Linked DNA regions of Homo sapiens: region 2 is linked to region 1. The links come from fine-mapping of genetic effects on gene expression. Tissue or cell type: whole blood. Region 1 holds a variant in brackets; the other region holds the start of a gene. All regions are shown on one strand. Distances are from middle to middle. Region 1 has its middle 50 kb from the start of MIR4446. Region 2 holds the start of SIDT1 (SID1 transmembrane family member 1).

What was found. PIP is the estimated chance that this variant, and not a neighbour inherited with it, causes the effect. A credible set is the group of variants that fine-mapping cannot tell apart.
Region 2: it holds the start of SIDT1, and the variant in region 1 is the best candidate, but not a certain one, in a credible set for the expression of SIDT1 in whole blood (INTERVAL, PIP 0.74).

The regions. Positions count from the first base shown.
Region 1 is chr3:113,642,386-113,647,771 of GRCh38, forward strand. No RefSeq gene overlaps it. Among named protein-coding and RNA genes, the nearest start is that of MIR4446, 50 kb to the left of the region's middle. The variant C/A (reference allele first, on the strand shown) is at 2,530.
Region 2 is chr3:113,529,856-113,535,241 of GRCh38, forward strand. SIDT1 (SID1 transmembrane family member 1) reads left to right here and starts at 2,700. Exons shown (of 25, transcript NM_017699.3): 1 at 2,700-3,388. The coding sequence starts at 3,167. RefSeq lists enhancers at 2,092-2,311, 2,332-2,521, 2,662-2,991, 3,462-3,591 and a silencer at 3,262-3,311.

The DNA of each region.
Region 1 (5,386 bases):
GACGGGGTTTCACCGTGTTAGCCAGGATGGCCTCGATCTCCTGACCTCGTGATCTGCCCGCCTCAGCCTCCCAAAGTGCTGAGATTACAGGCATGAGCCACTGCGTCCAGCCCTTTCTGCTTCTTTTGAGCTCCTTTAATTTATCCCAGCAACATTTTATAGTTTTTGGTGGGTAGCTTTATTGCTTAGTAATACACTGGCAGGGAATACCACTAAAATGTTGAATAATTATCATTCTTGTCTTGTTTCTAACTTCAGGGGGATATCATTAAGTGTGACAGCTGTGGGGTTTTGGTTTTGGTTTTTTTGTAGATGTGCCTTATCATATTGAGAATGTTTCTCTTTCAATTTTGTTTAGCATTTTTGCCATAAATGGATGCTGAATTTTATTAACTGTTTGAGTTACTATATGCTTTGTTCCTTTATTCTACTAATACAATGAGTTGAAAAATTGATTTTAAAGTGCTAAAACAACTTAGCTTTCCTGAAATAAACACCATATGATGATGATGTACTATTCTTTTCCTATATCACTAGATTCAATTTGCTGACATTTTGTTTAGCATTTTCATACTTATGTTTATTCAGGATATGGGCCTATAATTTTCTTTTACTGTAATGTAAATTTTGATATTGAGGTCATGTTAACTTCCTAAAGCAAGTTTAGAAGTGTTCCCTCTTTCTCTAGTTTATGAATTTGAGTAGATTGGTGTACTTCTTCCTTTGATAGTTAGAGGAATTTACCCCTGAAATCACTTGAGCTTGAAATTTTCATTGTAGGAAGATTTTTTTAAAAACCAACTTTACTGAGATATAATTCACCATAAAATTCGCCCATTTAAAGCATAGAGTTCAACAGCTTTTAGTCAATTCACAGAGTTGTGCAACATTACCATGATTAATTTTAAAACGTTTTCACCACCCCCAAAAGAAATTCCACACCCATTAACAGTCATTCCTCATTTTCCTCCAAAGCCCCCAGGTATCTAGATACCTACTAATCTGCTTTCTGTCTCTATAGATTTGCCTATTCTAGACTTTCATAGAAATGGAATCCTACAATATGTAGTAGGAAGATTTTAAATAATAGATTCCATTTCATCAGTAGGTATAAGACTATAAAGATTTTCTATTCTTCTTGTATCTATTTTGATAAGTTGCATTTTTCAATAATTTTGTCAATTTCCTCTAAGTTGTCAATATTATTGGCATAAAGTTGTAAATAATATTTTATGTTTTTAATTTCTGTATAATGTTTTGTGATGTCCTCTTTTACATTCATGATATTGATCATTCATATTTATCTTCTTTTTTCCTGGTCTTTTTTTTTCTTTTTTTGAGACAGGGTACCATTCTGTCACCCAGGCTGGAGTGCAGTTGCGCAATCTCAGCTCACTGCAATCTCCACCGCTCAGGGTCAAATGATTCTCCCACCTCAACCTCCTGGGTAGCTGCAACTACAGGAGTGCACCGCCACACCGAACTAATTTTTGTATTTTTTGTAGAGACAGGGTTTTGCCATGCTAGAATTATAGACGTGAGCCATCGCGTTTGACCTCTTTTTTCTTTTTTAGCCTTTTCTAAGTATTAACTTTTTGTCTGTTGATTTTCTCTGTCAGCTATCTGCTTTGTATTTTATTGATTTCTGCTCTATTATACTTTTCCTTTGACTTACATTGGACTTAAGTTACTATTTTTCCAGCTTCTGGAGATGGAAACTGAAATCACTGATTTTTTCAAATTCTCTTTTTTTACGTAGGCATTTAAAGCTATACATTTCCCTCAGATTAATGCTTTAGCTACATCACACAGGTCTCTCTCTCTCTCTCTCTCTCTCTCTTTCTCTCTCTCTATCTCTCTCTCTTCCCTCTTATCTCCCCCACACTCTACCCAAACATTAGAGAGACTTCTTTCAGGTGGTGGGCTACCTCACCCAGGGACTCTTCACACTTCATAAGTTTGTGTAGTCCTGAATGAGGAATAAACGTTTGAATTACTTGTGGCCTCTGGTTCTTATGTAGCATGTTTGACATCCAACAGCTTTAAAGGGGTGGGAACAGCAGACCCAGCAGCAAAGTCAGGCCATAATAATCTGATTTTACTATAGCCATATTAGCTTTCTTTTTATTAGAATTTACATATCTTACATATCTTTTTCCATCCTTTTACTTTTAATCTGTTTCCTTATAATTAAGGTGGGTTTTTTGTGCATTTTGTAAACAACATATAGTTGATTCTAATTTTTGTAATTCAGTCTACTTTTAAAATTTTAAATGGCTATTTCAATCTATAATATACTGATCTAGATGGTTGTAAGTCCATCATTTTTCTGTTATTTTTCTATTTGTTCTTTTAATTCATTTTTTCTGACTTATTTAAAAGTGTGTCCTTAAATATTTAATTATTTGATTAAATACATTGAATAATCCAGTATTTTGTTATTCCCTTTTACCTTCTCTATTTTATCTTATCTATTAGCATTTCAGTTTTGCCCTACTTTATTATTCTTTTGAAATTATAATACAGAAC[C/A]TTGATTTATTACCATCTACCTTTAATTATCATTTTCTACAACTTCTCAGCAATAAAATATCCACACCAGTTTTACTTCATTTATCCTCTCACTTTGTCTTATTATTGTAATATATTTTACTTCTGCATTTGCATAAGCCTTACAAGACATTGTTATTGTTTTAAATCTCAATATTCTTTTATATTTGCCAATAATTTACCCTTTCAAGCCCTCTTCACTTCTTTCATCTGGGATCATTTTCCAGCAAACCAAATAACTTCCTTTAAAATTTCTTGTAGTGCTGGTCTACTGGTAAAACAAAATATTGCTCAATTTTTGTTTGTATGAATATGTGTTTCTCTTTTAGTTTTTAGGGAATTTTAATAATTTATAGAATTCCATGTCAGTAGGTTTTTTTTTTTTTTTTTTGTCCTTTACTTTTAAGATGCCATTCCACTGTCTCCTGGCTTCCATCATTTTTGTTATAAAGTCAGCAGTCCTATTGTTGCTTCTTTGTAGGCAATGTATCTTTATCACCCAGGTGCTTTCAAATTTTCTTTTTTTTTTTTTCTTTTTTGGACATGGAATCATACTCTGTCACCCAAGCTGGGCCAAGTAGCTGGGATTACAGGTGCCCACGACCATGCCTGGCTAATTTCTGTATTTTTAGTAGAGACAGGGTTTCACCATGTTGGCCAGGCTGGTCTCGAACTCCTGACCTCAAGTGATCTGCCTGCCTTGACCTCCCAAAGTCCTTTATCTTTAGAGTTCAGATGTCTGCTTATGATGTATAGGTGTAACTTTCTTTACATTTATCCTACTTGTGGGTTCACCAAACATCTAGAATCTATAGTTAATATATTTATCAGTTTTGAACATTTTCACCCATCAAATATTACTTCTGTCCAATTCTCTCTCCTCTCTGTTTGAAGCTCTAGTGATACATAAGTTGGATATTTTGACAGTGCCCCACACATATCTTGCATTTTGATCACTCTTTTCTATTCCTTTTTTTTTCTCTGTGCTTTGGTTTGATTTCCTATTGACTGATATGTGTACTTTACTACAAATTTATTTAAGAATTTCCTGGCTGGGTGTGGTGGCTCATGTCTGTAACCCCAGCACTTTGGGAGGCTGAGGCAGGTGGATTACGAGGTCAGGAGATCGAGACCATCCTGGCTAACATGGTGAAACCCTGTCTCTACTAAAAATACAAAAAAAATTAGCCAGGCGTGGTGGCGGGTGCCTGTAGTCCCAGCTACTCGGAAGGCTGAGGCAGGAGAATGGCATGAACCCCAGAGGCAGAGCTTGCAGTGAGCCAAGATTGCACCACTGCACTCCAGCCAGGGTGACAGAGCGAGACTCCATCTCAAAAAAAAAAAAAAAAAAAAGAATTTCCTAATTTCACTTTTCCAGCTCTAGATGTTCATTCTATTCTTTTTTTCCATTATTTGTCAGGTTTATTGAAGTATAACTTACATCCAAAATCCATCTGACAGAGTACAATTCTGTGACTTTTAACCACACAAGATATAAAACATCTCCCCCCAAAATTTGTTCCTCTTTGTAGTCAACCCTTCCACCTTCCCCCAGCAACTACTGTTTTCTGTTCCATTTCGTTTTTTATAAATTATAATTCTCTATTTTTAACGTATTTTAAAATTTTTCCATTTTAACATATTTTTATAGTTATTTTAAAGCCCTTGTCTGTGCATCTTGATTGTCTGTGGGTCTACTTATACAATCCGCTTTTCTTTCTGCTTTTTGGCCACATTTCCTAGACATTGTATGTATTTTCTGGGGATTGTATATAAAAGAACGTTAGAAATTAAGGTGGATGGTATTTTCCACCAGAGAGGGTTCATGTTTCCTTTGTTAGGCAGAGAGTATTGAGCTGTATGAGAGCTGGGATGTAGCTTTAGTTAGATTCAGTTTGCCTCTGGTTTTAAATGTCTTGAGAATGACACCTGCTCCCTCTAGCAGGACGTTGTCTCCTAAGCTTCATGAAACTATGGGTGCTTTCACTCTGCCTTTTCAGCCCAGACTCATCCAACATCCCCAGGGGAAAAAAGACCAGAGATCTCAGCTTACCTAGAAATGGAATTTCTCTGGAATTTTGTTCAGATAGTTCTCTTATATTTGTAATTGCTGTTAATTCCAAAAACTACACTATAACTTTTAGGGAGATTAAATTTAAGCATAGTGTTTGCATCTTTATGATTTATATGTCTTTCATGGCATATTAGGGCTTCTTGTATAATCAAAATGTATCTTCCATCTATAACATCTGAATGGGAGGTGGTATGCAATAGTAGGAAGTTAGCCCTTCACAGTCAGAATACCGACTTTTAATCTGAAGTCCCAAGAAGACGGGTCAAGGAAAATATTGTGAGCTTTAATTTCCTGGAGTATATGTGAGAATAAGTGGTGTCTAAGGTCCTCATTTTACCTTTTATTTTTATTTATTTGTTTTGAGACAGAGTCTTGCTCTGTCGCCCAGGCTGGAGTGCAGTGGTACAATCTTGGCTCACTGCAACTTCTGCCTCCCAAGTTCAAGCAATTCTCCTGCCTCAGTCTCCCCAGTAGCTGGGATTACAGGCATATGCCACCACACCCAATTGTATTGTAAAAATACAATAATTTTTGTATTTTTAGTAGAGATGGGGTTTCACCATGTTGGACAGGCTGATCTCGAACCCCTGACCTCAAGTGACCCACCCGCCTTAGCCTCCCGAAGTGCTGGGATTACAGGTGTGAGCTACCGTGCCTGGCCATTTTACCTTTTAAAACATTAGGATATATTTTAGACATTCATAGAACAAAGACTTCAGGCATAAATGAGATCAACATCTGAGCATCTGCTACCCAGTGCAATAG
Region 2 (5,386 bases), 110 kb before region 1:
TTGCTGCAGAAACTGTGGGTCAGAGTTAGTTGTATTGCTATTTATGGTCTGGCCATTGCCCACTTGCATATTTAGTCTCTCACAGTAGAATCCTGACATTGTAGATATTAAAAAAAAAAAACTGCCTTTAAAATCAAAACAATTGAACTCATGGAGAAAGAGAGTAGAAGGATGGTTACCAGAGGCTGGGAAGGGTAGTGGGAGAGCTGGGGGAGGAAGGTGGGGATGGATAATGGATACCAAAAAATGGAATGAATAAGGTGTAGTATTTGATTGCACAACAGGCTATAGTCAATAATAATTTAATTGTAAATTTAAAAATCACTAAAAGAGTATAATTGGGTTGTTTGTAACATTATGGATAAATGCTTGAGGTGATGGATATCTCGTTTTCCATGATGTGATTATTATGCATTGCATGCCTGTATCAAAATATCTCATATACTCCATACATATATACACCTACTAAGTACCCACAAAAATTTAAAATAAAATTCCTTTTAAAAATAAAGAAAAAAACCACCTACCTAATGGACCACATTTTATTTTTTAGCTATTGAACTAGCAGTCACACCATAACAGTATTTGTTCATTCAACACTTTAAACTTTTTAATGTACTTTCAAATACATCATTCTCCCTTTTATCCTTACAACAACCTTGTGATCCTGAGAGGTTAATTACTTGAGGTCACTGAATGACTTTTGGCTAGAATAAGGATTAGATAATATTACAGAGTGACTTGTAATATATAACTCAAATTGTTAGGTATAGATAATCCATACAAATGGCTTTAAAATAAATATTTTGGGTTTCATGCTATGATGAAGGATCTGTTCCATTTGCTTCCAATTTAGTTGCGTAAAGTTGAGATAAAATCTTGAAGGAAGGGTCATAGCACCATTTAAATACCCACAGGTCTGTCATGTGGAAGAAGTATTAGGTTTATTCCTATGACTCCAGAGGGCAGAACTAGTACAAGTGAGTAGAAGACAGGCAGATTTCAACTAAGAATATGAAATGTCTTTCTAATAATGAGACACTTGCCCCCAAAAGAAGGTGTTGACTTGTGAAAGAACCAGTTCCTCATCTCTTATAGTGTTTAAAAAGAACGCCATAATAGAACTCCATAATCCTAGAGACTCCTTTAACTGGTCACACCAGCTAACCTCCAGGACCTTCGTAGATTTCAAGTTTATGAAATGTTGTTGAACTTTGAAAAGAGGCACAGATATTTTGAATACAACAGTTTAAAGTCATTCAAATTCTGGATGAAATTATTTCGTTATGCTCCTCAAAAACAGTGAGTTCTATTTGAAGTTTTACCCCCAGACTCTCCTTTGAATTAGTATTTTTGCCCATATACCCATATATTTTCAAGAAATTTCTTTCTTTCCTTCCTTCCTTCCTTCCTTCCTTTCTTCCTTCCTTCTTCCTTCCTTCCTTTCTTCCTTTTGAGATAGGGTCCTGCTCTGTCATCCAAGCTGGGGTGCAGTGGGGTGTTCACGGCTCATTGCAGCCTCGACCTCCCGGACTCAAGCAGTCCTCCCAACTCAACTCCCAAGTAGCTAGGACGACAGGCATGCACCACCACGCCCAGCTATTTTTGTATTTTTTGTAGAGATGGGGTTTCATCATGTTGCCCAGACTTGTCATGAACACATGGCCTCAAGCTAGCCCACCTCCCACTTCAGCCTCCCAAAGTGCTGGGATTACAGGCATGAGCCACTGCACCTGGCCAAGAACATTCAAAACTTTAAAACTGAAAATTGTCCTAATAAGGAGTCTACTAACTTAATCTTCCATCAGCATTGTTTTCTGATTTCACAGAAAACTTTACAACAAATGTATTGCATTCATTCTTGATGTTTTAAGAAATTAAAGGAATTAGACAAGGTAAAAACAAAAACAAATCTATCTCTTTAAAGATGGCAAGGACTAGGATTTTAATCTGTAATCTTAAATTTTTGAAAAAGATCTTTTCCTTCTTAATGACTTCTTTTTAAATGGTCCTTCAGGTTGAACACAATTACATTCTTTTATAGTATACAGTAATGAAGCTGAAATAAAACAGTGAGTTCTCTTCCACACGTAAATTGTGATTGTTCAATGTTCTGCAAGGTCTTCTGATGGCCCCATTCTCACCCTGCTCCTTACCTGCCTCTTTAACTCTTTAAATCTAATCCCCTAATTTTTATCAGAAAAGTATTTCCTTTTTACGATAGGCTGTGGTTTCTGCCTTTAAAAAAACAATCCTGGGGTTTCTCTCAGAATCTGGAAGAAGTCATTGCAATGGTAAAGTAGGTAAGAGGCTGGGGTGGAAAGAAATGCCTTCTGCATAAATCTAGTTAGTCTGAGTCGTTTTTTGACAACTTCCGGGACCAGACTTCAGGCAGTGCTGGAAATTGTTCTCTTTACCATATCTTTTTTTTTTTAACTGTACATATTTACATACATACACATATGGTGAGGGAGAGAACGTGATGACGTGAGACTCTCCATGGAGAGTAGGAGGTAATAAAGAAATAAAACAGGTGTCTGAGGAGAGGTTCTATTAGAGAGGGGAGAATAGAGAGTAATTATCGTTCAGACAGGCAAGAGTTCTCTGCAGGTAGCAGCCTGGGAAAGCGAACTCGCGCACCCTCTTGGGGGACGGGCTCTTTTGCTTTCTATTTCTTCTCCTGCAGCCAGGGTGCACACGTATTTGAAACAGACCGAATTTCCTCCTCGATGTGGCGTCAGGTTGACTTTTCGAGACTAGCGGGTATTTCTTTTTAATGACTCCAATGCCTTTTTATTATTGCTGTTATTGAGGTTGAGGGAGAAGAGATCGGTCTAAATTCTGGCTGGGTAAGTGGGGGGATTCTCGGCGATGAGAAACGGGGGACTTAGAAGCCGGAGGAAAATCAGCAGCCCCACATCTCCACTTCTCCAGTCCGCCCTACTCTCCACCCGTGACCTCCAGTGGAGACCCCAGGCGGCAGCATCAGTATTTGATCGGCCCTTCGTCAGCACGCTGCCAGCCCTGGCCGGCTGGGTTCGCCAGGCATCACCCGCTCGGCTCTGAAGCGGACGCCTGGCCCTGCACCGGGCTTTGGAAGGACCCTCTCTGCGCTCGCCCCCTCCCCAGGGTGGCTCCGCTTTCGAGCCCGGGCGCGGTGCCCACCATGCGCGGCTGCCTGCGGCTCGCGCTGCTCTGCGCGCTGCCCTGGCTCCTGCTGGCGGCGTCGCCCGGGCACCCGGCGAAATCCCCCAGGCAGCCCCCGGCACCGCGCCGCGACCCCTTCGACGCTGCCAGGGGCGCCGATTTCGATCATGTCTACAGCGGGGTGGTGAACCTCAGCACCGAGAACATCTACTCTTTCAACTACACCAGCCAGCCCGACCAGGTAAGACACTCGCTCCCCTCGCTCGACTCCTAGAACTTGCCAGATCTCAGAGCCCCGTCGCTGCTTTGGAGTCCCCTGGGAATTGACCTTGGGAGACTTCGGGGACCAGGGGACTTTCTTTCCCTTTCTCCTCCGAAGCAATCGCTGCCCTGCCCTAGCTGCCTCAACACGCCTCGGGGACAACTCTGCTTCGCCTCGCGCCTCTCCTGGCCTGGTCAAGGGCATTGCTGGGCTTTGCAGAGGCACCAGTTCCCCGCACCGTCTGCGGGTCCTGGGTCCCTGCTGGGTCTTTCTCCAGGAAAGTCCTGATTTCTAGGGTTGCGGGGTGTGGTGTGGAGTGCGAAGAAGAACCGCACCTCGGTTCCTAATCCCCTGCAGGGAAGAAACCTAATTTCAAGTGGCTGATTCAGCCAGACCCTTCTATTTCATAGCGCATGGGGAGGGAGAACTGCTCAGAATCTAAAATGGAAATTGTGTGAAAATGGACGGAAGCTGCAGAACCTCTGTGCATTCAACAGTCACTTCCTGCGTTTTTGTGCCATTGTCACACGTTGTGCTTCAGAGACGCCAGAAGACCTGGGCAAAGACGTGAGAACTGCAGCCATCAGCTGATCAATCCAGGTTTTGATTTTAAATAAGGATGGATAATTGTGTGAAAGTTCTAGACCTATTTTTGACAAAAGTTGAGGGAAGATAAGGAGGGAAAAATGTTCCAGTGACTATCCCTTTGACATATATACTCCGATTATATAACGTAAGAAGATGCATATAGTTCATTTCTTTCCTCTAGTGTGGTACCTCTGGAGCACTGGGCGGGGAGAGAGAGGGAGACAGAGAGAGAAAGAGAGAAAGAGAGACAGAGACAGAGACAGAGACTCCCCAGTGTACCAACCTCTGGATCTTCTTCCCATATAAATGTGTTTATGTATCCCTTACTATACCAGCATCCCCTACCCTCTAGGGAAATTCCAGAACTAGATGATTGGGATACCATGATATGCCTCCGTCTGATTCTCACTCCAGATCGGAACTAGAAAACCTCATCACTTCCCAAAGTGAGGGTGGTTTGTATTGAGCAGGGGGGACCAATGTGCCTAACACTGCTCCTAGACATCTTCCAGCTGTGTGTAGCCAGAAAGTGCCCTGAGTGCCCCATCTCCAGTGTGGCACCAAATCCTATGGCACTGTTACCATGGCAGCACAGCCCTCACCCTGCTCTGTCCTCCAGTAACCTTCAGGTTATATGTTCTGTAGTGAGCAGAGTGGCTGTATGCAGAGCCATTTCATGGTAGACAAGGGAGAGGCTGCAGTTTTTGTTTCCCAAACGCCATATACCCAGCCTCTTTCTATCTAGCGTGGGAGAACTCATCGACTGGTTGACATGTTGCACGTGAGGTGTGTTCCTAGTCCTGTGATTGGCTGGGAGCAGAAAAAAGTCTGAAAACTCCATGATCTCTGGAGTAAGTCTCAGCTTCCCCCTAAATCATTGGTAAGAAAACTCAAATTACATGTGCTAAGTAAATCCTGACATCAGGCTTTGGTATTTCTTGCAGTTCTGCATAGAGATAGAGCATCTACTTATGAATTGTTGCCTTTACATTTTCCCCTTGTACTGTGTGAGTTTTGCACTTGAGATCACCTGGTTGACTTCCCTAGTAAACCTTGAGATATTGAGGGCAGGGGCAAAGTCATGTTCATCTCTGCCCTCCAGTACCTAGCACAGTGAATGGCACATAAGAGGTTTATAAGCCAGGCATGATGGCTCACACCTGTAATCCCAGCACTCTGGAGGACAAAGTGGGAGGATTGCTTGAGACCAGGAGTTCAAGACCAGCCTGGAAAACATAATGAGACCCTCTCTCTACAAAAAATTAAAAAATTAGCTGGGTGTGATGGCACATGCGCCTGTAGTCCCAGCTACTTAGGAGGCGGAGGCAGGAGGATCACTTGAGCCCAGGAATTTGAGGCTGCAGTGAGCTGAGCTCTTGCCACTGTACT